5 separate regions of the Homo sapiens genome follow, and regions 1, 2, 3 and 4 are each linked to region 5. Evidence: fine-mapped expression QTL. A gene starts in region 5. Each other region holds a variant in brackets. All regions are shown on one strand. Distances are between the middles of the regions.

Region 1 (5,105 bases), 92 kb after region 5:
AGGCGCAGTGTCTCACGCCTGTAATCCCCGCACTTTTGGGAGGCCAAGGTGGGTGGATCACTTAAGGTCAGGAGTTTGAAACCAGCCTGGCCAACATGGCAAAACTCCGTCTTTACGAAAAATACAAAAATTAGCAGGGCGTGGTGGCACATGCCTGTAATACCAGCTACTCAGGAGGCTGAAGCAGGAGAATTGCTTGAATCTGGGAGGTGGAGGTTGCAATGAGTGAGATCACGCCACTGCACTCCAGCCTGGGTGACAGTGAGACTCTGTTTCAAGGGGAAGAAAAAAAAAGATGTTTTTCTGTAGCTTTAGACAAACAATTTGTCTAAAATGTCAAGTCTATAACTTACAATAGTCATAAAAGTAACTTATTTTTCTTATAAAAATACTTATTTACTTTAGAAAAATAAGAAAGTATATTTAAACTGAAAGCAGATGCAAAAGACACCTATAATCTTAACTCTGCTAGCACCTGACTGAAATCCTTTCAGACATTTGTACATAATTTGTGTGTTATATACTCATTCAACAGGTGGGATCATATAGTACATCCTGTTTTGTAACTGTTCCCATTCAGTATGATGGGGACATTTTCCTCAGTCACTACGTATTCATTGTGATGAAATTTTATGCTAGATATGATTTTTTACTTTCAAACAGAAAATTACAGGTCCCACTTTATATGTGACCCAGTATTTATAACAGCAACCATTAAAAACTACTAAGAATTTGCCTGGGTGTGGTGTCTCAGCCTGTAATCCCAACACTTTGGAAGGCCGAGGCAATTGGATCGCTTGAGCTCAGTTGTTCGAGACCAGCCTGGGCAACATGGTGAAATCCCGTCTCTACCAAAAACATAAAAATTAGCTGGGCGAGGTGGTGCATGCCTATAATCCCAGCTACTTGGGTGGCTGAGGAAGGTGAATCACTTGAACCCAGGAGGTGGAGGCTGCAATGAGCCGAGATCATGCCTCTGCACTCCAGCTTGAGTAACAGAGTGAGACCCTGTCTCAAAACCAACCAACCAACCAACCAACAAACTACTAAGAATTCATCATTTACAAACATTGAATATCTACTGCTGTATTATCTCACATGCTTAAAAAAGCTTAACTGTCAAAGGAATTACTGTTACGAGTTATGTATAATAACTTAACATGTAGCTATTTCCCTTGTATGTATAAAAATATGGGGAAAATGGATATTTTAGAATGAGACTGATTTTATGTTACAACTTTTATATTTGTTTTCATTTGAGTAATAGAGATAATAAGACCAAATTAAGTTTTTTGAACTCCTTATGTGCATAGCACCCCCTAATACATGTATGAGGCCATTTAGTAGTTATTGTAAACTTTAGTATTAAATATTCCATAGAACAAAGAGCTTAACTAAGCTTATAGGTATTTTTTCATACTGTGGGGGCACTAATGATTAATGGAGGTGGCATTAATTTAGTCATGGAATTGTGGACTGTTTTATCATGGTCAACTACTTCAGAGTTTGGTATGTAGCTTTTAGGACTGATACACCTAAATATACAAATATGAACTACATCTGCCTGTCCTTACTCTTCATTTCACTCTGGGGTTTTTTGTTTTGTTTTGTTTTGTTTTTGAGACAGGATCTCACTCTGTCACCCAGGCTGGAGTGCAGTGGTGCAATCACCACTCACTGTAGCCTTGACCTCCCCGGGCTCAGGTGATCCTCCCACCTCAGCCTCCTGAGTACCTTGGGTTACCCTGCCCAGCTAATGTTTTTGTGTGTGTTTGTTGTTATTTATTTATTTATTTTTGAGACGAAGTTTCACTCTTGTTGCCCAGGCTGGAGTGCAATGGCACGATCTCGGCTCACTGCAACCTCCGCCTCCCAGGTTCAAGCAGTTCTCCTGGCTCAGCCTCCCTACTAGCTGGGATTACAGGTGCCCGCCACCACACCCAGCTAATTTTTTGTATTTTTAGTAGAGACGGGGTTTCACTATGTTGGCCAAGCTGGTCTTGAACTCCTGACCTCAGGCAATCCACCTGCCTCAGCCTCCCGAAGTGCTGGGATTACAGGCATGAGCCACCGCACCCAGCTCGTTCTTGTATTTTTTTGTAAGGACGAGGTCTCACCACGTTGCCTAGGCTGGTCTTGAACTCCTGGGCTCAAGTGATCTGCCTGTCTCAGCCTTCCAAAGTGCTGGGATTACAGGTGTGAGCCACTGTGCCTGGCCTATTCTTACCCTTGAAGTGTAGTATTTTAATTTATATATTAGATTCTTTGTATTTGGCTTACTTGGGAAAAGGAACAACCCAGTATATTTTGATTCACTGTAGCTAGAGTTCTCTATTATTTCCTAACTAATGGATTGATGGATTTATTACTATGTGTAGGTCTCTGCCTCAGTTTCATTTCCTGCTCTCTCTCTCTTTTTACTTTCAAAGTA[C/T]TTGGTATTTTATAAACTCTGGAAGAAGTGGTTATGTTGATATTTCATAGTCAATGAGGTAGGGTTTCTGCTTCCTACAGTGGTAAAGTAAAATGAGTTATTGACATGAATGTGGCCACTTCCTTCCTTTTGAGGTAAAGCAGTAGCAAACAGTAGTCTTTGAAAGTTGTTTCAGTTCATTTAGGGCTCACTTTTTTTTTTCTTTTGAGCAATAAAGTTTTTTCTTAAAACACTTGGCTGCTTTTATTAAAATGCTTAGTGAAGTACTTTATTCCCAGCTGATCTCTCTAAGTGTTGCTAGTGTTGTTTCTTTTTGTGGGTTTGAGTAGAATAATGCTCTGGAGAAACAAGAATGTCAAAAATGTAGTTTTAATGACTGCATGATTTAGAGCTAAAATAGATACAGAATTTAACAAAATGAGGCAGCATTCACCCTAAAATATTTTATGCTTCTGATTTCAGAGTGATCATTTAGGATCAGGAAGTCATTTCAGTAACCGTAAGTATAAAAGTATGGATTATCATTACAGTTCACCTAGTTCAAGTAAAGAAGAATGTTTATTCTTACTTGTTTAACTATACAGGAATAACTGTACAAGATATTCCTGCTGCTAAACTTCATCAGCACATGGAACTAGGAAGACGTTAAGATGACTATTGTAACTTCTAACATATTCTGATAATTACTGAAGCTCTGATTCTCCTTAGCTACCTGTATTTTAAAATTGTATATTGTATGAATTACCAAATTTGCCTTGTTGATTAGTAGACATAGACATTTGTCTTGTGATATTTAGGGTTCATTTTTTTATGGAAAGAACATAAACATAGTTTTCTAATTTGGAGAAATCGGTCTTAATGCAAGTAGGCATTTTAAAATTACATTTATGAATTATTTTTAGACCCTACATAATCTTTTTTATTCTGCAATGTTAAACAGTTTCTCTAGAAAATCTGTTTTTGTTTCCTAGTGACTATTAAACTATTCTCTCCTACAACAGTAATATTTATGCTATAAATTTAAATCATCATTTTTGTTTTGATTGATTATAAGATATATGTTTTATTATCATGTAGCCTAGTTTAAGAGTCCTCAATATTTCTGAAGTTTTAGTGATTCTGCTGAGAGAGAGCATAGAAAAAAATAAGAAAAAAAAAAACCAACCTAGTATCTGTTGTTCAGTAGATTGTAGGTACTTCTGTTTATAGAAATAATAAGGGGAAAATGGGTATTTTAGAATGAGGATACTTTTGTGTTGTACCTCTTGCTTCTCTTTTATTTGAATAATAAAGGAAATAACATCAAATTAATGTTTAGCCTACTTTAGTATGGATATTGAAGTTAAAATGTCATTCATTTGCATTTATTTAGGAAAAGAAGATATGCTTCTTAAACAAGGTCAGATGTATATGGCAGACTCACAGGTAATAACTGTTTTTTTTTTTAATTTTAAAAAACATTTAAAGAAAATTTTTGTGCCTTTATAAAGAGAGGAGAAAGCGGCATTGTACATTAAGTATATATACATAGAGTGAGGTTTTCATTATCAAAGACAAGTTGGTCCTGCTTTCTTGAGTTTAATAAAAACAGATATTGCTGTTTCTGGTGCCCTCTAGAGTGTTTTTGATGATAGTGGTTATAATAAGAGATTTGAATTATAGTTTCATTGCATTTGATGCTAAGTTTCTGTTCATTAACAGTGATTAGTTAACTCTTCATATTTGCCCATATAAAGGGGAAGACAGATATGAATAATCCAAAATATAATTTTTTGGTTTTTTTTTTTCCTCTTGATCCAGGGGAAAGGCAGTTCAGATTTAACTAACAGTAAATCTGTAGGGGTCTGCAGCAAGCTCTATCCTTGCCTCTTCAGAGGAAAGGATTCGGCTGAGGGGCAGAAGTAGGTTTAAGGCAGAGGGAGAGACCAAGGGAAGTTTTAGGGCAGGAGTGAGTTTATTAAAAAGTGTTAGAGCAGGAACGAAAGGAAGCAAAGTACACTTGGAAGAAGGCCAAGTGGGCGGCTTGAGAGATCCCAGTACCCTGTTCAGCCCTTGGCTTGGGATTTTTATGCACTGGCTTGGTTTTGGGGTTTGCATTTCTCCTCCCTTGATTCTTCTCTTGGGGGCAGGCTATCTGCATGCATAGTGGCCTGTCAGCACTTAGGAGGGGCCACATGTGTAGTGCCTTTACTAAGGTTGTGCACCTGCTCTCTAGGGGCTATTTTCCTTTACCAGTCAAATGCTCCCTGAAGAAGGTCATACATCCACCATTTTGCCTCTTAGTGCGCATGCTTGAGCCTGCTCACCCAGCTCCGGAGATCTTATCAGGAAGCCGCTGTCACCAGCTCCAGGTGTTTTCTGTCTATTGGGAGACTCTCTTTCCCTGGTGCTGGCTGTGACCAATCATTCTCTTGACAACTCTGATAACTAGCTGGGTTTCTTTTCGTGGTATTTTTATAATTCAGAGAATATTCTGTTGGATTAACAGTGAAGGTACGCAGAAGTCAAAAATCTTATTAGTTAAATCTATAATTCTATGAAATTATCTGCAAATTTAAAATCGCAGTACTTGTTTTTATTCAAGGATATGATGGTTTTCTTCAGAATTTAAAGTTCTAAGCACATTATGTACCATAAAACATAGAAATAATAAATATGTTTTGATAAAGTTGAT
Region 2 (5,105 bases), 81 kb before region 5:
ATGTGCCCCCTGCTAGCACCATCCAAAATATGGTTTGTAAAAGGGTGATGCCTTTAACAAAGTTGAGAACATACCTGTATATGTTTTCAATCTGTCTCAGTGAAAAATCCTTATCTTTTGAATCTGCCCTGGTGTTTTTATATTGCATTATCAATTTGCCCTTTTTGAACCATTTCACATTCATTATCTTGTTCTAGAGGTGAGTCAAAAGAAATCTCACACAGACAGGACCTGGACCCTAGTGTTTTTCATAAATGATGTTTTTGTGTTTGGTACCTTCCTTATTGGTGTCCACCATTTTCTTGGTCTTGGTGGTCAAAATACCATATTCCACCATCTGCAATGATAGACAATGAGTCTGAAAAATCATTCCTGGATTGAAAGCTGTAGTGAGGGTCTCATTATTCCACCATCTTAGTTTGGATATTCTCCTCCTATAGGGTATCATTCGATTAACTGCGCAATCAGTGTAACCAGATTCGATATTTTATGAAAAAAGTAGCCTTGGATGTTTTATGCTACAAATCCTTTTGTTTCTCTAAATCATTTACAAATATGACACACCTGTAATCCCAGCACTTTGGGAGGCCAAGGTGGGCAGATCACAAAGTTAGGAGTTTGAGACTAGCCTGGCCAATACGATGAAACACTGTCTCTACTAAAAAATACAAAAATTAGCCAGGCATGGTGGTGCGCACCTGTAGTCCCAGCTACTCAGGAGGCTGAGGCGGGAGAATCGCTTGAACCCAGGAGGCAGAGGTTGCAGTGAGCCAAGATAGTGCCACTGCACTCCAGCCTAGGCGATAGAGTGAGACAACATATTTAAAAAAAAAAAAAAATTCAGCACTGATTCATGGAACCCAATTACCTGTTTTAAAATGTACCCCTTTATTTCTACCCATTTCTCACAGGTTTATAGCTATAACAAAAGACCTCATCACTCCCAGTTTACAATGTTTTGTTAAAAAACAAAACAAAGCAAAACCTTAAGTGTAAAACTTTTTCAAGCCTCCTTGAAAGGCCACTAAGAGCATATTCATCAGAAACCATACTTCCTCCCTCAAAGGATCCTGATAGGTATGATTTGCCCTCAAAACTATTTGCTTTACATTGGTGATACTTTTTAAATTCCCATTACATGCAAGGCTCTGGGGTAATACTATAATGAAAGAAACCAGCTTGAGTTCTACTCTCAACTCAGTGTTCGGGCTGCTAATAAAATGTGCACACAAGTAGCTATAATACAAATATAGATAAGTGTTGGGAGAAGTAGAAATGATTTTTTCTTCCTAGGAGAATTGCATTTAAGATGGACCTTAATGTGTGACTAGAATTTAGACCCGAGAGAGAGGAGCAAGGCATTCAGAGACAGGAACAGCAAGCTCAAAGGCACAGAGTCCAGAAAGCTTGTGACACTTACAGATAACTATGTCTTTCTGTTTGTTTGGAGCAAAGGATCTGAAAGGAAACCGATGGAAATAAGTTTTGATGCTGGTTACAGCCAGATTCTAAATGAGTCTGAATAAGGAGCTGAAGACTTTGTTGGTTTTTTTTTTATTATGTATGTATGTATGTATGTATGTATGTATTTATTTATTTTTTGAGACAGGGTCTCACTCTGTCACTCAGGCTAGAGTGCAGTGGCGCAGTCATGGCTTACTGTAGCCTCGACCTCCTGGGCTCAAGCAATCCTCCCACCTCAGCCTCCCAAATAGCCTAGACTACAGGTGTGCACGGCCATACCTGGCTAATTTTTAAATTTTTTGTAGAGACAGGGTCTTGCTACGTTGCCCAAGCTAGTCTCGAACTCCTGGCCTCAAATGACCCTCCGGCCTTGGCCTCCCAAAGTGCTGGGATTACAGGCGTGAGCCACCGTGCCTGGTTGGGAGCCGAAGAGTTTGAATTTTATTTAACAGGAAATAGAAAAGCTTTTATTATTATTATTAAAGTAAATCAGTGACATCAAGTAAAGCAGTGACATACTCTAGCTGTTCTTCAAAACATGTAATATGGCACAGAGTGGAGGAGGCTGTAGCCTAAAATATAACATGGGAGGTGGCAGGAGGTGGGAAGACAGAACCCTAGAAAGACTCTGGTTGGGAAATATACCAAAGATGCAGGAGTAAAAAGGGCTACAAATATCTGAAAGGTAATTTAAATTCTTCCTTTAGAACAATTTCCTAGCCTTTCTGTCTGCCAGTGGAAAGTAGCAGGTATTTTATTTTTAAGGGGGAAAAAAAAGAGACAAGATTATTTTCTAAAGGAATTGAATGAGCTCACTACGGAGATCTAGGGATGCGAAAGCAGAGCTGGCAGCCGCAGAGTAAAGCCTTTGCCATTTGGGTAGAGCCCCCAGCTTAATCATTCCCTGCCTGCTCACCCTCATGTGAAGCCTGCCACTTGGCATGCCCCACCTGTGTACATAGAGCCATCTAGGAAGAAAACCAGTGGGAGTGTGCAACTGCAGAGGGAACCCATACAACCCACTAAGAAAAAGCAGCATGTACCTTTTGTCTTCACAGTGAATAGCTGTGGAGTATAACTCCCCACACCCTAAGTGTGGGCTGTGTACAGTGGCCTTCTTCCAAAGAGCACAGTATGGGAGTGGGGATAAAGGGAGTGGTTTTACAGGGGAGAAACCCGACAAACACTACCTCAGATAGGTGATCAAGGTTAGCATCCACAGTGATCATTCATGTTGATAGCATCTACCCTGATAGGATGTGCTGAGAATGGAAATTTACCTCTGTGGTCCTCCCGCCAAAAACCCATAATCCCAGTCTAATCATGACAGAGAACATCAGAAAAATCCCAGTTGAGGGACATTCCACAAAATACCTAACCAGTACTTCTTAACACTGTCAAGGTCATCAAAAACAAGGAAAACTGTCACAGCCAAGAGGAGCCTCAGGAGACATGACAGCTTAATGTGTTAATGTATTGTGGTGTCCTGGATGGGATCCTGGAACGGAAAAAGGGACAATAGGCAAAA[C/G]TAAGGAAATCTGAATAAAATATGGACTTTAGGTAATAATAATATATAATGAACTAATGAACTAATTGTAATTAGTTCATTGGTTGTAACACATGTACCATACTAATGCAAGATATTTATAACAGAGCAAGCCTGGGTGTATATATATGGGAACTCTCTGTACAATTTTCACAACTTTTCTGTAAATCTAAAACTATTCTAAAATAAGTTTATTAAACCCTTTAATAAAGAAAAAATGAATTATTTCTTAGTCACTTGAAGAAAATCAGTGGCATGAAAGTTAAATGGAAGAACTGACCCCAAAGGATACAGAGGTGATGATGTTGAAACAAAAGACTCAAAAATGTATACTCCAACTAGCACCCTGAGAGTGAACTTAAGATACTGCATCCACAAAACAAGAGTAGGAAGCTCTTAGAAGGGAATTATCTAGGATCAAAAACAGTTCTTAGAAACTAAATAAATAACTACTAAAATTTAAAAATTCTGTAGGAAAGGTTAGAATATAATGTCAAAGAAATCTCTTAGTGTGTAAATTACAAAGACAAAGACAGAGCATATGAAAGAAAAAATAAACATAGAGGACCAATCCAGGTGGTCAGTCAACTAATAGGACTTTGAGACAAGAAATGTAATCTTAGCAAATGACTTAGCCCTGTAGGGAACAGTGTTTACATAGTCATAATAATAAAATACAACTGATTGACTTTCAACTTTCAGTATGTATCTATAGATAAAATATAGAATATTAGTTACCGAATGGAATGAAATATTATGAACCATGGCAAAATGAAATAAAAGTACATCTGATGCAATATGGAAGGTTGGAAATAGGTGAGATGGAAGAGAGAGTAGGACAATAGTGTGTATTAATATATCACGTAGCAAGGAATTGAAAAATACTTTTTAATGTTTATGGAATAAGAAACCACTTAAAGTATATTATTTTAAAACACAAATAGGGCCGGGCATGGTGGCTCACACCTGTAATCCCAGCACATTGGGAGGCTGAGGCAGGCAGATCACATGAGGTCAGGAGTTTGAGACCAGCCTGGCCAACATGGTGAAACTCTGTCTCTACTAAAAATACAAAAATTAGCTGGGTGGGGTGGTGTGTGCCTGTAGTCCCAGCTACTTGAGAGGTTGAGGTGGGAGAATTGCTTGAACCTGGGAGGCAGAGGTCGCAGTGAGCCGAGATCGCACCACTGCACTCCAGCCTGGGCGACAGAGTGAGACTGTCTTAAAAAAAAAAAAAGAAAAAAAGGTCGGGCGCGGTTGCTCACGCCTGTAATCCTAGCACTTTGGGAGGCCGAGGTGGGCAGATTGCCTGAGCTCAGGAGTTTGAGGCCAGCCTGGGCAACACGGTGAAACCCTGTCTCTACTAAAATACAAAAAATTAGCCGGGCGTGGCAGCGTGCGCCTGTAATCCCAGCTACTCAGGAGGCTGAGACAGAAGAATCATTTAAACCCAGGAGGCAGAGGTTGCAGTGAGCCAAGATCATGCCACTGCACTCCAGCCTGGGCGACAGAGTGAGACTCCGTCTCAAAAAAAAAAAAAAAAAAAAAAAAGACACCAAAACCATAAATAAAAGGCTAATAGAAGAACCAAAACTAAAAGAAAATTTGAAGAAGGGGTTATTTAGGGACATAAGTCATAAGTGACCCCAAATACTCATTTTATGTAGTAAGACATGAATAGAGAATGACTACGGTTGGCAAGTGAGAAATAGAGCTATAAGCATATTTTATAGAGCTATGAGATAACTCTCCTAAGAATTAAATGGCTGAAGAGAAGTTACCTCTAGGGAGGAAAGGTGGAATGGGGAATTGTTGATTTCTTTATAAGTTCCCTACTATTTTATTCTAGTTTTTGCTATGTTTATCTATTACTTTAATTTTTTGGAAAAATGTTTTGATGAGCTATTAATAAGTATCCAAGGGAGAAATAATGAGGATGGTTGGAATGGCAAAGAGAGAACAGATGGGAGACCCTGCAAAATGAAATAAGCACTTTATAATTGACTAAATGTGGGGGCAAAAGAGAGAGTGAAAGGACACATCCTAGGTCTTGAGCTTAAGTACATAGAAGAGTGAATAGGGAAAGTAGTTGGGG
Region 3 (5,105 bases), 430 kb before region 5:
TGACTTCCCTGAAATGTATGGCAGTCTTGACAATCCACCTGGAACCAACTCCTCCACTGGTTTCTGCCACGCATACCATGATGCCATCTTCCTCCTCTCCCTGCCTCTCTGACAGCTGCTTCTGCTGCTATTCCTCATTTTACTTCCTCCAGAATCTCCCCCTAACACCAGAAGCTTTCTCTTTCCCGTGTTCCTGCTTGCCCATGCTCACAGCTTGTCTAGAATGTAAGCCAGAGAATATGACTGACAATAGCTGCCTGGCATTTCTGCCACCATCTTGATTGCCACATTTCTGAAACTCATCTCACTATCTTCTCATCTGACCCACTCAAGAGCACCTCCTCCTATGATACTTGGTGTCTGGTGGCAATACTGCCACTGTCCCTAAAGCCACAGCTACAAAGTGGAGTCATTCTTTTTCTCTCTCTGTCTCCTTCACTCCTCCAACCTGGTCAGTTATCGAGTCTTCTGGATTCTTGCAATAATCTCTCTTTTTCAATTTGATTATAATTCCCCTAATTTGGATCGTACAGTTCTTAGTGGAAAACTTTACCTACTATAGCCTGGCTTTGAAAGCAAGCAGTCCTGAGTTCAAACGCTGGTTCTGTGATTTATAAGCTCTGGGACTCTGGGTGGCTGCTATGGTTTCAATGTGTCTCCTTCAAAATTCAGGTGCTGCCAATGTGATAATATTAAGAAGTGGGGCCTCTAGGAGGTAATTAGGTCTTGAAGATCCCTCCCTCATGAATGGGATTAAAGGCCTTATAAAAGAGGCTTCTGCCACCTTCAGCTGGCTTGCTCTTCTGCCCTGTGAGGACTCAGCAGTCGGCCCTTTTGCCCTTCTGCTTTCCACTATGTGAGGATGCAGCAAGAAGGCCCTCACCTGATGCTAGCACCTGGAACTTGGACTTTTCAGCCCCCAGAACTGTAAGAAATAAGTTTCTGTCCTTTATAAACTACCCAGTCTCAGGCATTTTGTTATAGCAACACAAATGGGTGGATGCAGTGGTTATTCAACATGAATAAGCCTTAGTTTCCTCATTGGTCAAGTGTACTCAGCTTGCAGGTTATTGAATATGACAGATATCACATTGTACAGTGTCCTGCATGTAGGGAATGCTCAATAATTGGTAGCTATCACCAGTATTATTATGACTCCCAGGTGGTCTCCCTGCCACCAGTCTTTCCCCCAACCCCATCCACCCAACACACACCTCCAGAGCAACCCTCCGACAATACCACTTTTATCAGTGTCTCCCCCTTAGCTCGAAGGGCTTCAGTGGATCCTCAGTACCAGAAGGATAAAGTCTATCTCGCCTAACCTGGTATCTAAGGTCTCTCTAGTATGGACTCAACCTGCCTTTTTAACTGGACTTGTTATTGGCCCTCCCCTGGCCACCCCCTACCTCCAATCTACAAACACAAATTCCTTCTGTGCCCCCTAGAGGGGTCCACTTGGTATTGTCAGAAAACCTCATTCATTCTCACCTTCCCACTACACCCTTCTAGTGACAAGATAAATGTCCTTCCTCCCTGGCTCCATCTACTGGACTTTTCCCATTTCTGCCATCCCAAACCACTCTGCATCCCAGCAGAGAGGTTGTCTTTTGCTAAACTCAACATTTCTCCATTGCCTTTTTATATATGCTAGAGTTGCCCTTCCTAGGATTGACTTATTTTGACTTCATCCTCTTTTAATATTTTGGGATGGAAAACAACCCATATAGGGATGCATATACATCTCTATAGATTTTAATATTTCTTAATGTCTCCCGTAGACTGAGTACAGTTACGTACCTTCCCAAACATTATTGCTTTTCTACCCTCTACAATGAATTAACACGAGGCCTTGCCCATAAAAGTAGTGGATACATATTCACTGATTTGGAAAAACAGCCCCTAGTGAGAGTGTGGAGGGCCCATTCCACATGGTGGACTATGACAGACATGGTCCCAGCCCCGTGCTGGGCTTCGGAACACCAGGCTGTGCTTCATTCCTGTTCCTGCTTCTCTGGTGGCCGCCGACTTTCCCAGGGCAGCTTCTCCAACTGGAATTCCAGATGTAACATCCCACAAGGTATAACTATGTGTAGTTTTCATTCCTCTGCAGAAGAGCCATGGGCTGTGTCTTACAATCCAACAGTGCAGGTGGGAGCCACCGAAGTGAATGTGCACTGAAGACCAGGAACAGCTGGTGTCCAGAAGCCAGAGTTATGCATAGTTTTTGAGGCACTTAAGGGATATCATGAACCAGGGGCTGCTTTGGAGATGGGACTGGTAGGATCTAAATGAATTTGTAGGGGCCTCTCCAAATGGGACCTGCATGCAAGGTCAAGCCTTGTCTTCGGTAAGAGAATGAGTGACACGTAGGAACCGGGCCCAGGAGGGCAACAGGCCACATGAGATGGGGTCACTAGAGAAATTATACCCTTACACTCCCACAGGTG[C/A]CCAGAGGGGCCAAATCCATGCCCCGACCCTGAGTGTGGAAATGGCAAACTATCTCCAGACCCCTCCGCAGTGCCCTTAGTACCAAGGACTTGAGTGGGCTGGGCTTCTCAGTAGCAGGTGGCTGGGGCAAAGCTGGAGGAGGCAACTTCTACTCAGTGGCAAGAAGAGCAACCTCGGTTTGTGAAAACAGATGGAGGCATCTGTTTCTGTCATCTATTGGACAGAAGAAACAGAACATAGCTAGACTGTACTTCCATATTCTCACCAACTGCATTAGTCCTTTTTAAAGCTGCTGATAAAGACATACCCGAGACTGGGAATTTATGAAGAAAAAGAGGTTTAACAGACTCACAGTACCACGTGGCTGGGAAGGCCTCACAATCATGGCAGAAGGATAAAGGCACATCTTACATGGCAGCAGGCAAGAGAGAGTGAGAGCCAAGTGAAAGGGGAAGCCCCTTATAAAACCATCAGATCTCAGGCCGGGCGCGGTGGCTCACGCCTGTAATCCCAGCACTTTGGGAGGCGGAGGCGGGCAGATCATGGGGTCAGGAGATCGAGATCATCCTGGCTAACACGGTGAAACCCCGTCTCTACTAAAAATACAAAAAAATTAGCTGGGCGTGGCGGCGGGCGCCTGTAGTCCCAGGGGGGACTAGGGAGGCTGAGGCAGGAGAATGGTGTGAACCCGGGAGGCGGAGCTTGCAGAGAGCCGAGATCACGCCACTGCACTCCTGCCTGGGCAACAGAGCGAGACTCCGTCTCAAAAAAAAAGAAAAGAAAAACCATCAGATCTCATGAGACTTATTCACTACCGTGAGAACAGTATGGGGGAACCACCCCCATGATTCAATGATCTCTACCGGGTCCCTCCCACAGCACGTGGGAATTATGGGAGCTATAATTCAAGATGAGATATGGATGGGGGCCAAACCATATCACCAACCCTGGCCATTCTTCCTTTAGGTAACCAAGGTTCTGTGACCTGGGCCTGGAACCACAGTCCAAGCAGCTAGGAGGATCTGGAAATCCTAAGTCATGTATCATTACAGTTATCCCAAGGGTACCTAGAGGTATTTCCCTGTGCGTCATATCTCAGTGTAATGCGTGTTAATATTGCTAATCTTGTTCTGTTCAAGTTTAAGTGCTTGTGAAAATTATGCTCCTAGTTCCGTATGGCCCACGTCTCTACCACCACCCCAATCACCAAGCTGTGCCAGTCAGTGAGAAGCAAGCTTACAGGAAAGAGGGGGTCCTTTCTGAGTGTGGACGCCCAGTAAGAAACCCCAGACAATAACAGCAGCAGGACCATTTGAGAGTTGTGCCAACACTCAGATTTCCAAAGCTGGCCCAGCTCCTGATCAAAAGCAGGAATGAAGAGCATCCCCCCAGGATCCCCGCCCATCCCACTAGAAGTCATTCGTATTCCTGTGCAGTCAGCGGTTTGCAGCCAGGTTTGGCTGGGGAGGTCCCACTGCTCATTTCTCTCCTAAACCTCCCTGGTGTGCAGCCAAGTCTCCATTTTATGCAAACTTTAAAAACAGAAACGTAGGAAGAAAAACGATTCCCATGAAGGATGGAAAACTAATCTAACAAGAGATTACAGCTGTGCAGAGGGCTGTTAGGGAATCCGGGCACCTTAGCAGAACAGCTCCCCGAGGGTAGGGCAGCATCTCACATCCTTATTCATATTGTCCTGCACACAGACAGTTGTCATGGACAAGAGTATGAAGTCAAAATAAGTCAACTCTAGGAAGGTCAGCTCTAGCAAGGAAGCATGCTAGGAACTGCAGGACACTGAAATAAGTCTAGTTCCTATCCTAAAGAGTTTATAACCCGTCTAGGAGAATAATGCTGAAATACCTGGAAAAAAACTGTCGAGAACAGGTTCACTTCAAAATTCACCAAAGGAGCCAAGCGCGGTGGTTCACACCTGTAATCCCAACACGTTGGGAGGCCAAGGCAAGCAGACTTGAGGCCAGGAGTTCAAGACTGGCCTGGCCAACATGGTGAAACCCTGCCTCTACTAAAAATACAAAAATTATCCAGGCGTGTTGGCGCACATCTGTAATCCCAGCCACTCGGGTACTTGAGGCAAGAGAATCACTTGAACCTGGGAGGTGGAGGCTGCAGTGAGCTGAGATGGCTCCACTGCACACCAGCCTGGGTGACAGAGCTTCATCTCAATAAATAAATAAATAAATAAATCCACCAAAGGAATTTAAAACACAAGACAGTACACATCAAAAAAAGGCTTTTGGAATTTGGACAGTTTGGAAAGGTCAAGAAGGCCAGGTGCGGTGGCTCACACCTGTAATCCCAGTATTTTGGGAGGCTGAGGTGGGCAAATCACAAGGTAAGGAGTTCAAGACTAGCCTGTCCAACATGGTGAAACCCCGTCTCTACTAAAAATACAAAAAATTAGCTGGGCATAGTGGTGGGCACCTGTAATCCCAGGTACTCAGGAGGCTGAGACAGGAGAATCGCTTCAACCTGGGAGGCGGAGGTTGCAGTGAGCTGAGATCGTGCCACTACACTCCAGCCCAGGTGACAGAGTGAGATTCCATCTCAAAAAAAAAAAAAAAAGAAGAAGAAGAAGAAGGCAAAGCATAGGAGGTGGTGCTGCCCTTGGGGTATCAGATATCACCAAGGATTTG
Region 4 (5,105 bases), 320 kb before region 5:
TGCTAGGAGGACTCACAGGATTCCACATATAGCCATGCTCACAGCTAAGATTGATTACAGCAAAAGGATACAAAGCAATTGTTTCATGAGCAAAGGGAACAGGCACATGGGGAGAAGTCCAGAGAAAGCCAGGTGCAAGCTCTCAAGAGTCTGCTCCTAGTAAATTCACACAGGACACACTTAGTTCCTCTAGCAACAAATTCTAACTACACATGTGAAGTATTGTCTGTCAGGACAGCTCATTAGAGACTCAGTGCTTAAGATTTTATACTGGGGTTTTGTCATGTAGGCACCTGCTGCCTAGCATGTAACAAAACTCCAGGCTCTCAGAAGGAAGGCAGGCATTCAGCACAAACCATTTTGTTTGTACAAATGGTGTAAGTCCAATGAGCCACGCTTATCACTGATAGAAGTTTTCTATCAATGTGGGGAATTATTCACTGGCCAAGCTCCCAGATGCCCACCAGGGGCCAACTTTCCAAGCAGACCTTTCTAAGGAGAGCAGTCTCAGGCAGCCATGGTGACTGTTTCCTGCACAGGTGTATACAATTAAACTCATGTTATCCATATAGTAACACTATAAAGTTCTCACTCACAAGCATAGGTTCAAGCATGAACAAATCCTTTGCTATCTTCTTAAAGTCCCAAGACAAAGCCTTCCTCCAAATATTGATGTGGATATATTTTTTTTTCCACCAAGAGGAGCCCATGTGCTACTGCCAACAAGATTCTAGTGCTCCAATTAGCCAAGTGTGGTGGTGCATGCCTGTATTCCTAGTTACTCAGGAGGCTGAGGCTGGAGGATCACTTAAGCCTTGGAGTTCGAGGCTGCAGTGAGCTATGATTGCACCACTAAACTCCAGCCTGGGTGACAGAGCAAGACCCTGTGTCTAAAAATAAATAAATAAATAAATAAATAAATAAATAAATAAATAAATAAATAAATATTCTAGTGTTCCAAGTTGGCAAAACCCACCTCAATCCCACCCCTCCTTTCTACCACTTCCTTGTATCCTTAGTTCGAGCTTTCAAGCCATCCACCTGATTTGGGGTGCTAAATGTTATTCACAAACTGTCTCTTTCTCACCTTTCCCCAAGCCAGAATTGATCAGCATGGCCTCACCCCTGGTTCCCAGACCCAGAGGAGGTCACAGCTCTGAAGAAGTGCTTCAGAGGACTCCCCTGGAGGCTGAGCACAGTGAAGCTCAGAAAAGAGCCCTTCCCTCTGAGTTATTTAAAGGCATCTCTACTCTGCTCCATCTTCTGTCCTTGCTCCCCCACCTCCTTCTACAGTTGAGACATTATTGTCTTACTTTTGCCCTTCAGAAGCAAATTGTCAACCCAGCTCAGGCTGGGGCACAGTGACCTTTTCTTTAGACAGTTGTTCAAATATTCTGTGATATACAAATTGAACCACCCTGAAGTCAACCTCGAATCTACTCAATGGTAATGACTTGATTGCTCTTGGACCTGTGGAAATCCTAATCCTCAGCCCCATTTCACACAGTGATGACTTTGCCCAGTTTATTTTCTTTTTTCAAAGGACGGCGTTAGAGAAGCGGCGAGGGGGAGATTACCCCTTTCTGTCTACCTAGCTCAATCAGTCCATTCATAAAGGCCAAATTGGGAGCCCCTCCACACTCAGATCATTACCTCAGTAGGAATTCCCCTTCTGTTTGTTTTTTTTTTCCAAGTGTAGGATCTGGACTGTCTGTGTGTGAGGGGCTGGGGGTGTTTCAGGACAAATGACATCATGTAGACCCATAGAAACAGATGTTCAGACTTTCTGTACTTCATGAACTCAGTTTCGTGCCATCTACTGGAATGGAAACTGGCCAGGCCATCCGGAGGGAGCTTCTAAGACGAGTGGGTGGGACCTCACTGCTTTCCTTTCACTAAAACAGGAAGGGCCTGGGCTGGAATATCTTAGTGAGCACATCCAGAAATGGGCATGGAAAACCAGTGCTCAACCCACAGACTCCAGCTCCACCAAGCAGATTTGTAAGCGAGATGCTGAAATAATTTTTCCGCTCCACTTCCCCCCTCCCCTGCCCCCAGAAAGGCATGAGATATTTTTAGCAGGAAAAATAAATGCCCAATAAAAATGAACATAAAAATACCATACGAGGGACAGGGTACCCTCCCATCGGTTTCCAAGAGATCCCTGGAGTGACCATTAAATTAAACAGGCTTTGAAGCCAGCATTAGAGGAGTGGATGGGTACAGGCCAGCCCTGGTCTAAAAAGAGCTGGGGAGGGGAATAGAAAGAAGAAACTGGCCGAAAGAATCCTGTGCTTAATGAAGGAGAGTGTAGGACTAGGGAGAAATTCACAAAGCACACCATGTGCCTCTTCTGTGAGCTCATGACCATTTTGCCTGCCAAGTCCAATGACCTTCCCTCCACGCACGTCTCCCTGACCCTTCCGTGGCATCTGATCCATTCCTCCTGCCGTTGGCCTCTGTGGAACTGTCCTTTCTTCATGCTCCTCCTACATTTCTGCCTCAAGCTTAACAGAATAAAACCTGAGGTCCTCATTTTCCTCCCACACCTGCTTATTTCTTTATTTCCCCCTCAGTGAAAGGCATTTCCAGTTCCTCAGGCCAAAACCTTGAAGTCATCCTTGACTTCTCTCTCTCACACCACACATCCAATCTGTCAGCAGATCCTGCTGCTCCACCCTCCAAATACATCGGGACCTGACCATTTCTCACCCCCTCCCCTGTTCC[C/T]GCCTGGTCCAAACCCTCGTCATCTCTCACCTGGCTTATTCCACGGGCTTCCTGCTTCACCTTCCTGCTCTGCCCTTGCCCCCTTGGACCATGGATTCTCAACACAGTCATCAGACCCATATTGTTAACATGAAAGTCAGAGGGCAATCTCTGCTCAAAGCCTTCAAAAGACTTCCAGTCTTACCTAGAAGGGAACCCCAAGTCCTTACGATGGCCTTCAAGGCCTCAAGTGGTCTAGCCCTGTGTTAACTCTGTGTTAACTCTGGCCTCTTCTCTTCCTAGAGAGCCCTGTTAAGCTCCGCTACAGCCACATGGGCTCCATGCTAGTTCTCTCATCTCCAGGCCCTGGGACATGTGATTCTCTCCTCCAAAAATACTCTCCCAACCAGATGTCTTCACAGCTCACTCCCTCACTTGCTTCAGGTCTTTACTTGAATGCCACTTTCTTGGTCGCTCCATCTAAAACTGCAACCATCTTGAAATTAAAAAAAAAATTCCCTTCCTTCCTTTATTTCTCACCTTGCTACTTTTCCCCATCTAACCTATTATAGAGGAAATTGACTGTCTTGCTTATTTCCTGCTCCCCTCCTTCACTAGAATGTAAGTTCCATGAGGGTACAAATACTTGTCTCTTTTTTGTTTGCTTGTTTGTTTTTGCTGATGAGTCTCCAGCAGAACCTTTTATTAAATAAATAGAATGAATGAAGGAGTGGATGTATCTGCTAAAATCCACAACCACTCCCAACCTCCCTGCTCTTGATATTGATACTAGTACTTGTCACATCTTCCAGCTCATGGGAGCTGTTCTGGCCCATGCTCCTCCTGTGCCACTAGCCTCTAACCAGATGCCATCTCCTCTGCCACGGATCTTCCTCCTGAGGAACCCGGTGGTGTGATGAGGCAGCTCAGTCTCTGCTCAAGTCACAAGAACCAGGACAAAGTTTTCAAAATGCTTCAGAGCAAGTGGCTTCAACAAACTCCAAACCTCTGGTGCCTCATCTGTAAAGTGGGTTTAATAATGCCAACTTCCATTAGGTTATTGTGAGAATGACATGGGGTAACCTGTGTATCATATTTCTCCTGGTGCCTGATAGAATCACTGCTTCCCTTCCTGCTGTGTTTGTGCCATTCTAAATGTCTCTGACTCTGATGGCTACCAGATTCTCTTGAGGGTCTCTTCAGTCTTTTCAGTAGGCCACCCACCTTGTCCACTGCTGCATAATTTCTCCAGGTTCCTTCCTGGTTCAAAACTCTTTGTGTGGTCAGGTGCGGTGGCTCACGCCTGTGATCCCAGCTCTTTGGGATCCCTAAGTAGAAGGATCACTTGAGCCCAGGAATTTGAGACCAGCATGGGCAACAAAGCAAGACTTCGTCTCTACAAAAAATAATTTAAAAAAATTAGGTGGTTATGGTGGCACATACCTGTAGTCCCAGCTACTCAGGAGGCTGAGGCAGGAGTATGGCTTGAGCCAGAAGTTGGAGGCTGCACTTAGCTATGATTACTCCACTGTACTCTAGCCTGACGACAGAGCAAAACCCTTCTCAAAAACAAACAAAACCCCAAAAACTTTGCATTCCTTCCAAAGGATGAAACATTTCATTTAACCCAGCCACATGGAGTTAAATATGGTCAAGCCAAATGAACTCATTTCACATGTTTAGCTCAAGCAAGCTGATTTCTTCACAGGAGCTGCCCAGTAAATGCTTCAGTGACGCCCACCATGATGTGTGTGGGGTTAGTTCATCAGCTGAGCTGTCTGAACCACTTACAGACTTCCAAGCCCTACATGTTCTTCCTTGTCTCTGAGTCATTGTGAAAGCTGCCCCTGAACTTAGAATACCCTTTGACTCTTTCCTATCCCCCTCTTTACCCACTAAATAGCACTACACTTGCCAGAGTCCCAGCCACTTGTGGGGCTGAGGCAAGAGGATCACTTGAGGCCAGGAGTTTGAGGCTGCAGTGAGCCGTGATCATGCCTGTGAATAGTCACTGCACTCCAGCCTGGGCAATACAATGAGATCCTGTCTCTTACAAAAAAGTAAAAAATAAAAAATAACACCACATCTTTCAGCAGCCTTAAGGGAGGCCCTCCTTTCAAAACCCCACTGTACCTCCTCCCCGAGGTGGGCTTCGCTGCCCCTCTACTGTGCTCCCACCACATCCGTGCTTACTCCAAAGAGGCACGTACTATGTTGAATTGCATGCGCCTGTTTAGTCATCTACCTCTTCAACCCAGGCTGTGAGCCTGGTGGGCAGGGACCATGCCCTATTCATCCGAGTGAACTGGTGCTGAATACAATTATTTGGCACATGGTAGGTGTGGAATAAAGGCTTTCTGAATGAATGAGCTGGTAAGTAAGTGAGGAATGGATGACTC
Region 5 (5,105 bases):
TCCTTCCCTAAATACCATCTGCAATCTTACTACACGATTCAGTAAGCGATTGTCCAGTTAAACTGTATGTGTTAGCATACAGCTTACACATTTGTTATCTAATCCAGAACACAAGTTCCTTGACAGCAGGGATCAAAATAGGGGTGGTAAGCAGATCAACTTGCTCCATTTGTATTATTTGAGATTACCATGTGTATATATAATCTAGTAAAGTAATTTTAAAAAATGCATTACCCTTCCTGGTATATATTGTAAATAAATAAATATTGGAAAAAAAAAAGAAGTAAAACAAAAAAATATTTTATATAGGCTCAGTGTGATAACAAACAAAAGGTCATCTAGGTTTGATAAGTGCCCTTTGCTCTGAAGGGAAGATAAAAATAAATAATAGTGATAAGAGTTAACAAAATAAAACCCAACCTGTCTGGTTGAATGCTAATAATAGTGACTTTACTTCATATAGGCAGCTTCCAGATCAATGTAAAAAAGCTTTACTGAATATTCAGACCAGTGCTATTTACTTAGCTGCTCTCAAATGGGAATAAGCAGACATCAGCTATCAAGTTTCTAGGCTGGAAAAATCCATAAAGGCCACTGGACACAGACACCATGGGGACATCATCCAGACAGTTCATAAAAATAACTTGCCCAACATTTTTGGAACCTGATGCAAGCTATACTTGTGGTTCTGTCTGTTTCCTTTGCTTTATCCAGTAACAACAGAAAAGGAGGCCAGTCACCAGGACTATGATAACTTGGATGTTACAGGAGACAACCAGTACAACATAACACTGCAATTAATAACTCAAGAGCCAATTACTGAGACAGTGCTCTTGTAAGCAATTAACATTTAAGATTCAGTCAGAGGACTAGATGGTAAATGGGTGCTTATCTTAAGCCCAGAGAAAGGAGTTGATTGAGACACAAATATTTGAGCAGGACCATAGCCTCAGATCATTCCATCTGTGTTCACAATAGGGGGAATCCCAATCCTGTGTCACATAAATACATAGAACAAACAACCATAATTTGCTATAGTAGTCAATAAGAATGCATCAATTCATTCAGAAATATTTATTAAACACCTATAACATGCTAAGCATTCTAGGGAATTCAAATATATGTCAGTTATTCCCCAATTTTAAGTAAATTGAAGTCCAGTAATGAAATAAGGTTTGCTCAGCTCATATGTGTTAGTATCATATGAGAGGTATAATTGCTGTAACTATTTGGAGGATGGAGAGATCACTTCCAGTTACTTGATCAGGGAAGGTTCTATAGAGAGGAGGGCACTTGGAAGGGACATACACTTAAAAACAAACTTTTTGTTAAAGCATAACACACACATAAAAGAGAATATATTGCATACAGTACAGGCTCATTGAATTTTCACAATCTGAAAACACTAGATATGTAACCAGCACCCACAGAGAATAGTACAGTATTCCAGAAGCCCCCGACATCCCCTACCAATCACTCTTGGGGGAGTAGGATTTTCTGAGATGAATGTAGACAGACAGAAGATTATTGGGGGAGGGATCAGTATGCATAAAGATGTGGAAGTTGAAAGCCATGACCCATGTTTGGAGAATGGGCTGAAGAGTAATTCGCTTGGGGTGTTGGCTAGAGAACAGGGTCGCGTCCACGTTATACAGCTTTAAATGCAAAGAATTAGATTTTATTCGTTAGCTGCTGAAGGCTTTTGAGCAAGAGGAGTATTTTTGTAAGACTTATTGATGATGGCTGATAATTTATTGGTGATGGGACAATTAAGAGACTGAAGGTTGGGAGACTGGCTGGGAAGCTTCTGTAATAATAGTCCGGGTATGAGGTAATTTTGGCTCTGCAGTGGCAGTGAGAACAGAGTAACTGACCATACACAGACACTTTAAAGAGCCAACAAGAACTAAATGACTGGAGATCTAGAGGAAGGGGGAGGAATCAAAGAAAATTTTCTTCCAAAGATCTAATCAAGATGAAATTTAATAATATTTTTGGGTAGTTAGTTGTTATTTACTTGTTGTATAGGGTTAACACAGTCTTTGAATGCTGCCTCTCCAAGAAATTCTGAAAACTTTCTTACAGTATTTGAAGAAAACCTTGCGTTACTATAAAGAAACTCTAAAGAGAGCAACTGACCTTTCAGACAAAAAAGAGTCCTTTGTTAGTCAGAAAATGTGGACCGTTTGTCTTTTCAAATGGATGCATGCTACGATAAACGTTTTGCTGGGGGGAAAAATGACTCCAAAGAAGACTTTTGAAGATGTCACCCGAACAGCAAATTATTGGGTGCTGAGCACCTTCCTGTTTCTTCATCCTCTTAAATAATTTTTACTAACCCAGATTTCTAGGTAAGATGATTTAACTTCATCGTATACGTTTACATGTAATGTGTTTCTACAGAAAACAAAAAACCTTTTTGAAGAAAAAAGGGCGTAACTTTTTTTGACAACTTAAATCACTGGCTGTGGGAGTCATTTTTAATTGATGGCACCTCTTCTCCTCCCTCCCCGCCCCCATTCCGTCCCTTTGCTTCCAATACGGCGGATTCTTCACTCAACAAATAAACGAGCACGTAACTTGTACTGTAACTTACTATAACGTCTTTCAAGGTCTTTCTTAACTGTACGTTTTTCTGCACAATCAGCACCTTATTTCTTAGAGACTGTTTATTTCTGGAATTTTTGATGCGTGTGGTGGTTTCCAGGCACCAGGATTTGGTAGTAAAACAGGAGACTGAAAAGAAGTTGCTCCTGAAAGCTGTTCTGTGTGCAGGTAACCAAGAGTCATTTCTAAGACCAGACGGAAGGGAAGGAACTTTACTTGGTAAAGAGCGCGTGGGTGGAAAGAGGAGGGGAGTCCGGGAAGATGAGAGGTGGCAAAGGCGGGACCCCGTGCTCTCTCTAGATCTTAAGCTCCGGGTGGGCGGGCGCCGGTGGCCTGGAGCCCGGCCTGCGCGCATCTCCACGCCTCTGGCCGCCCACCTCCTCCGCCCCTTCCCGGGCTAAAGTTCCCAAACTTTTCCTCCAGCTGGGAGAGGAAGGGTGTTACTCAGTTTAAAAGGGAAGTCCCGCCCCATTCCCGCATTCCGATTGGTCGCGGTTTGCCACGCCCCCGCCAGGGCAGCGGGTCAATTGGCTACGGGAGGGGAGCCCCGCCTCAGGCCTGTCGACGTCTGCTGCCCGGGGCCCGCAGGTGGCAGGCAGGTGGGGCTGGTACAGCCCGCGCCGCCTCTGCTGCAGCCGCTGCCGTCTACTCCTTGCGCGCTGGCACTCCGCAGCCTTTAAGGTTCGCGCGGGGGCCAGGCAAGAGTTAGCCATGAAGAGCCTCAAGTCCCGCCTGAGGAGGCAGGACGTGCCCGGCCCCGCGTCGTCTGGCGCCGCCGCCGCCAGCGCGGTGAGTCCCGCGGTCCGGGCTGCGAGGCGCTCCGCTCCGGGAGCAGCGCAGCCCTCCTTTGCTGGCGAGTTCGCGCGCCGCCTTCCTCTGCTTTTCCTCTGCCAGTTCGGCTTCGGCGGCCCTGGCGACTCCTCCCTGAGGCCGGAGACTCCGTCAGCCCAGAGACCCCGGGGATCCTCCCCGCCGCCGCACCCGAGCCTCTACGGGTCTCTTCCCCACCCCTTTCTCCCAAGCCTCCGAACTTCTGGAAGAAACCTCAGTGGGGCGGTTCTGGCCCCCTCCTCCTAAATCCAAAGTTCCTCGATTGGCACCCCTACTCCGCTCTTTCCGTTGACCCCCCCTCGTCGCTCTCCTCTCCCGGCGCTCGCCCTGCTGCCCACGCCCGCTCGGCCGTGTTGGCTCCCCAGTCCCCGGGGCCGGGGCTCGCACCAGGTAGGGCAGGTGGGCAGGGCTGCGCACCCCGCGCCACCGTGCCCGGACTCCGGACCTTCCCCGGGTCTGAGACAGCGTCAAGCCCTGCCGGGCTGGTGGACGTCCCGTGCTGGCCGCTGTCGTTGTCACTGGGAAGTTTGATTCCCCAGCGAGGCAGAGGGAATCGGCTTAGTCGTAAAGACAAAACCCCACAGGGTGGTGACCCTAGAGGTGGTGAAGTTGGGAGGGGTGGTGGTGATGTGGGTTGTGTAAATCGCACCTGTGGGGCGGGATCCGTGCGGGGCTCTTTCGGTGCTGACCTGCAGCGCGGCCTCAGTGTGCGCGCCAAGGAGTAGTCGGGGCCTCTTTAGTTGGCAGGAGAACAGAAATCTTGAGAAACAGCCTGACCGCAGATGTTGTGATTTAGATAATTTGTCACGTTACAAGAATGGCGATATCATCAAAATTCTATATCATTAAAATAAGTGCCACTTACAAAGTCTTGGAAGAGTCGAACGTAAAGGAGTTGTTATGCTCCAACTGCACAGTTACCTAGTTGGGGTAATTAAAATGAACCTTTACAATTCAACGCAGATTTTACCAAATGATTATATTCTTTTTATCAGAATACTAATTAATCTGCTTCTGCTTTTTTGAGTTAATTCAGTTATGCCTTTCTCTCCACCTATATCGAGGATTATTTTACTTGGACATAAAGGAAATTGTGGAGGAACTACCTAGACTTAAATTCCTATTTCAAAAAAAGAGAGTAGATTCAGATGACGTAATTGATGTTCTTTGATAAAGCATGAAGTCGTTTTATAAGCTCATGGAAAACAGAGATTACTTTGTTTCACTTTTTTTTTTAAAAAAAGTAACTGGCAGAAATGTCATTTAGTGATATTGGAGTTCATTACAGTTAAGATTCTACTTCTGTAATGCAAGTTGTGTTTTTAGCCTTATAGAAGATACAAGTTTCTAGATTTATTAGCTTTGTTTTCCCTGGTTGTGTTTGATTTGCACTAAGGATGTAAATCCCACTTGGAGGTTTATATGCCTTAATTTTATCCAGTTTTCTAGAAATGCAGAGTATTTAGTAGGTATTATCAGCATGATAGTTTGCATTTTATACATTTGGAACATAAAGTGCATATCTCTGAGCTTAAATCTTTAGCACTCAATTGAGCGTTCTATTTTTCTCAAAATGACATAATAAAGATAAACATGATATTAACCTATTTATGTAGAAAAAGCAAACATTTCTGTTTAAATATTAGAATAAGTTCTGTACAATTTAA

Direction of the effects. Alleles are on the strand shown, and positions count from the first base shown. SD is a standard deviation of normalised expression in the study named. Not every link is listed here.
As copies of C replace A in region 3, the expression in putamen of the gene that starts at base 3,168 in region 5 goes down (large effect, 0.82 SD a copy in GTEx).
For the expression in sun-exposed skin of the gene that starts at base 3,168 in region 5, C is the high allele of the variant in region 4 and T is the other (small effect, 0.37 SD a copy in GTEx).

What was found. PIP is the estimated chance that this variant, and not a neighbour inherited with it, causes the effect.
Region 1: its variant is fine-mapped to the expression of UACA in whole blood (TOPMed, PIP 0.95).
Region 2: its variant is fine-mapped to the expression of UACA in blood mononuclear cells (TOPMed, PIP above 0.99). The same link has a PIP of 0.9 or more in whole blood.
Region 3: its variant is fine-mapped to the expression of UACA in putamen (GTEx, PIP above 0.99).
Region 4: its variant is fine-mapped to the expression of UACA in sun-exposed skin (GTEx, PIP 0.96).

Annotation. Positions count from the first base shown.
Region 1 is chr15:70,669,790-70,674,894 of GRCh38, reverse strand. It overlaps UACA (uveal autoantigen with coiled-coil domains and ankyrin repeats), which reads left to right. Exons shown (of 19, transcript NM_018003.4): 14 at 2,894-2,930; 15 at 3,804-3,856. Among named protein-coding and RNA genes, the nearest start is that of SALRNA2, 37 kb to the right of the region's middle. The variant C/T (reference allele first, on the strand shown) is at 2,432.
Region 2 is chr15:70,843,106-70,848,210 of GRCh38, reverse strand. All of the region lies in intron 1 of LARP6 (La ribonucleoprotein 6, translational regulator), which reads left to right. Among named protein-coding and RNA genes, the nearest start is that of LARP6, 8.5 kb to the left of the region's middle. The variant C/G (reference allele first, on the strand shown) is at 2,993.
Region 3 is chr15:71,191,834-71,196,938 of GRCh38, reverse strand. All of the region lies in intron 3 of THSD4 (thrombospondin type 1 domain containing 4), which reads right to left. Among named protein-coding and RNA genes, the nearest start is that of THSD4-AS1, 5.3 kb to the right of the region's middle. RefSeq lists a silencer at 1,315-1,609. The variant C/A (reference allele first, on the strand shown) is at 2,448.
Region 4 is chr15:71,080,289-71,085,393 of GRCh38, reverse strand. All of the region lies in intron 3 of LOC105370886 (a long non-coding RNA gene), which reads left to right. Among named protein-coding and RNA genes, the nearest start is that of THSD4, 33 kb to the left of the region's middle. The variant C/T (reference allele first, on the strand shown) is at 2,728.
Region 5 is chr15:70,761,621-70,766,725 of GRCh38, reverse strand. It overlaps UACA (uveal autoantigen with coiled-coil domains and ankyrin repeats), which reads left to right and starts at 3,168. Exons shown (of 19, transcript NM_018003.4): 1 at 3,168-3,396. The coding sequence starts at 3,319. RefSeq lists a silencer at 2,994-3,403.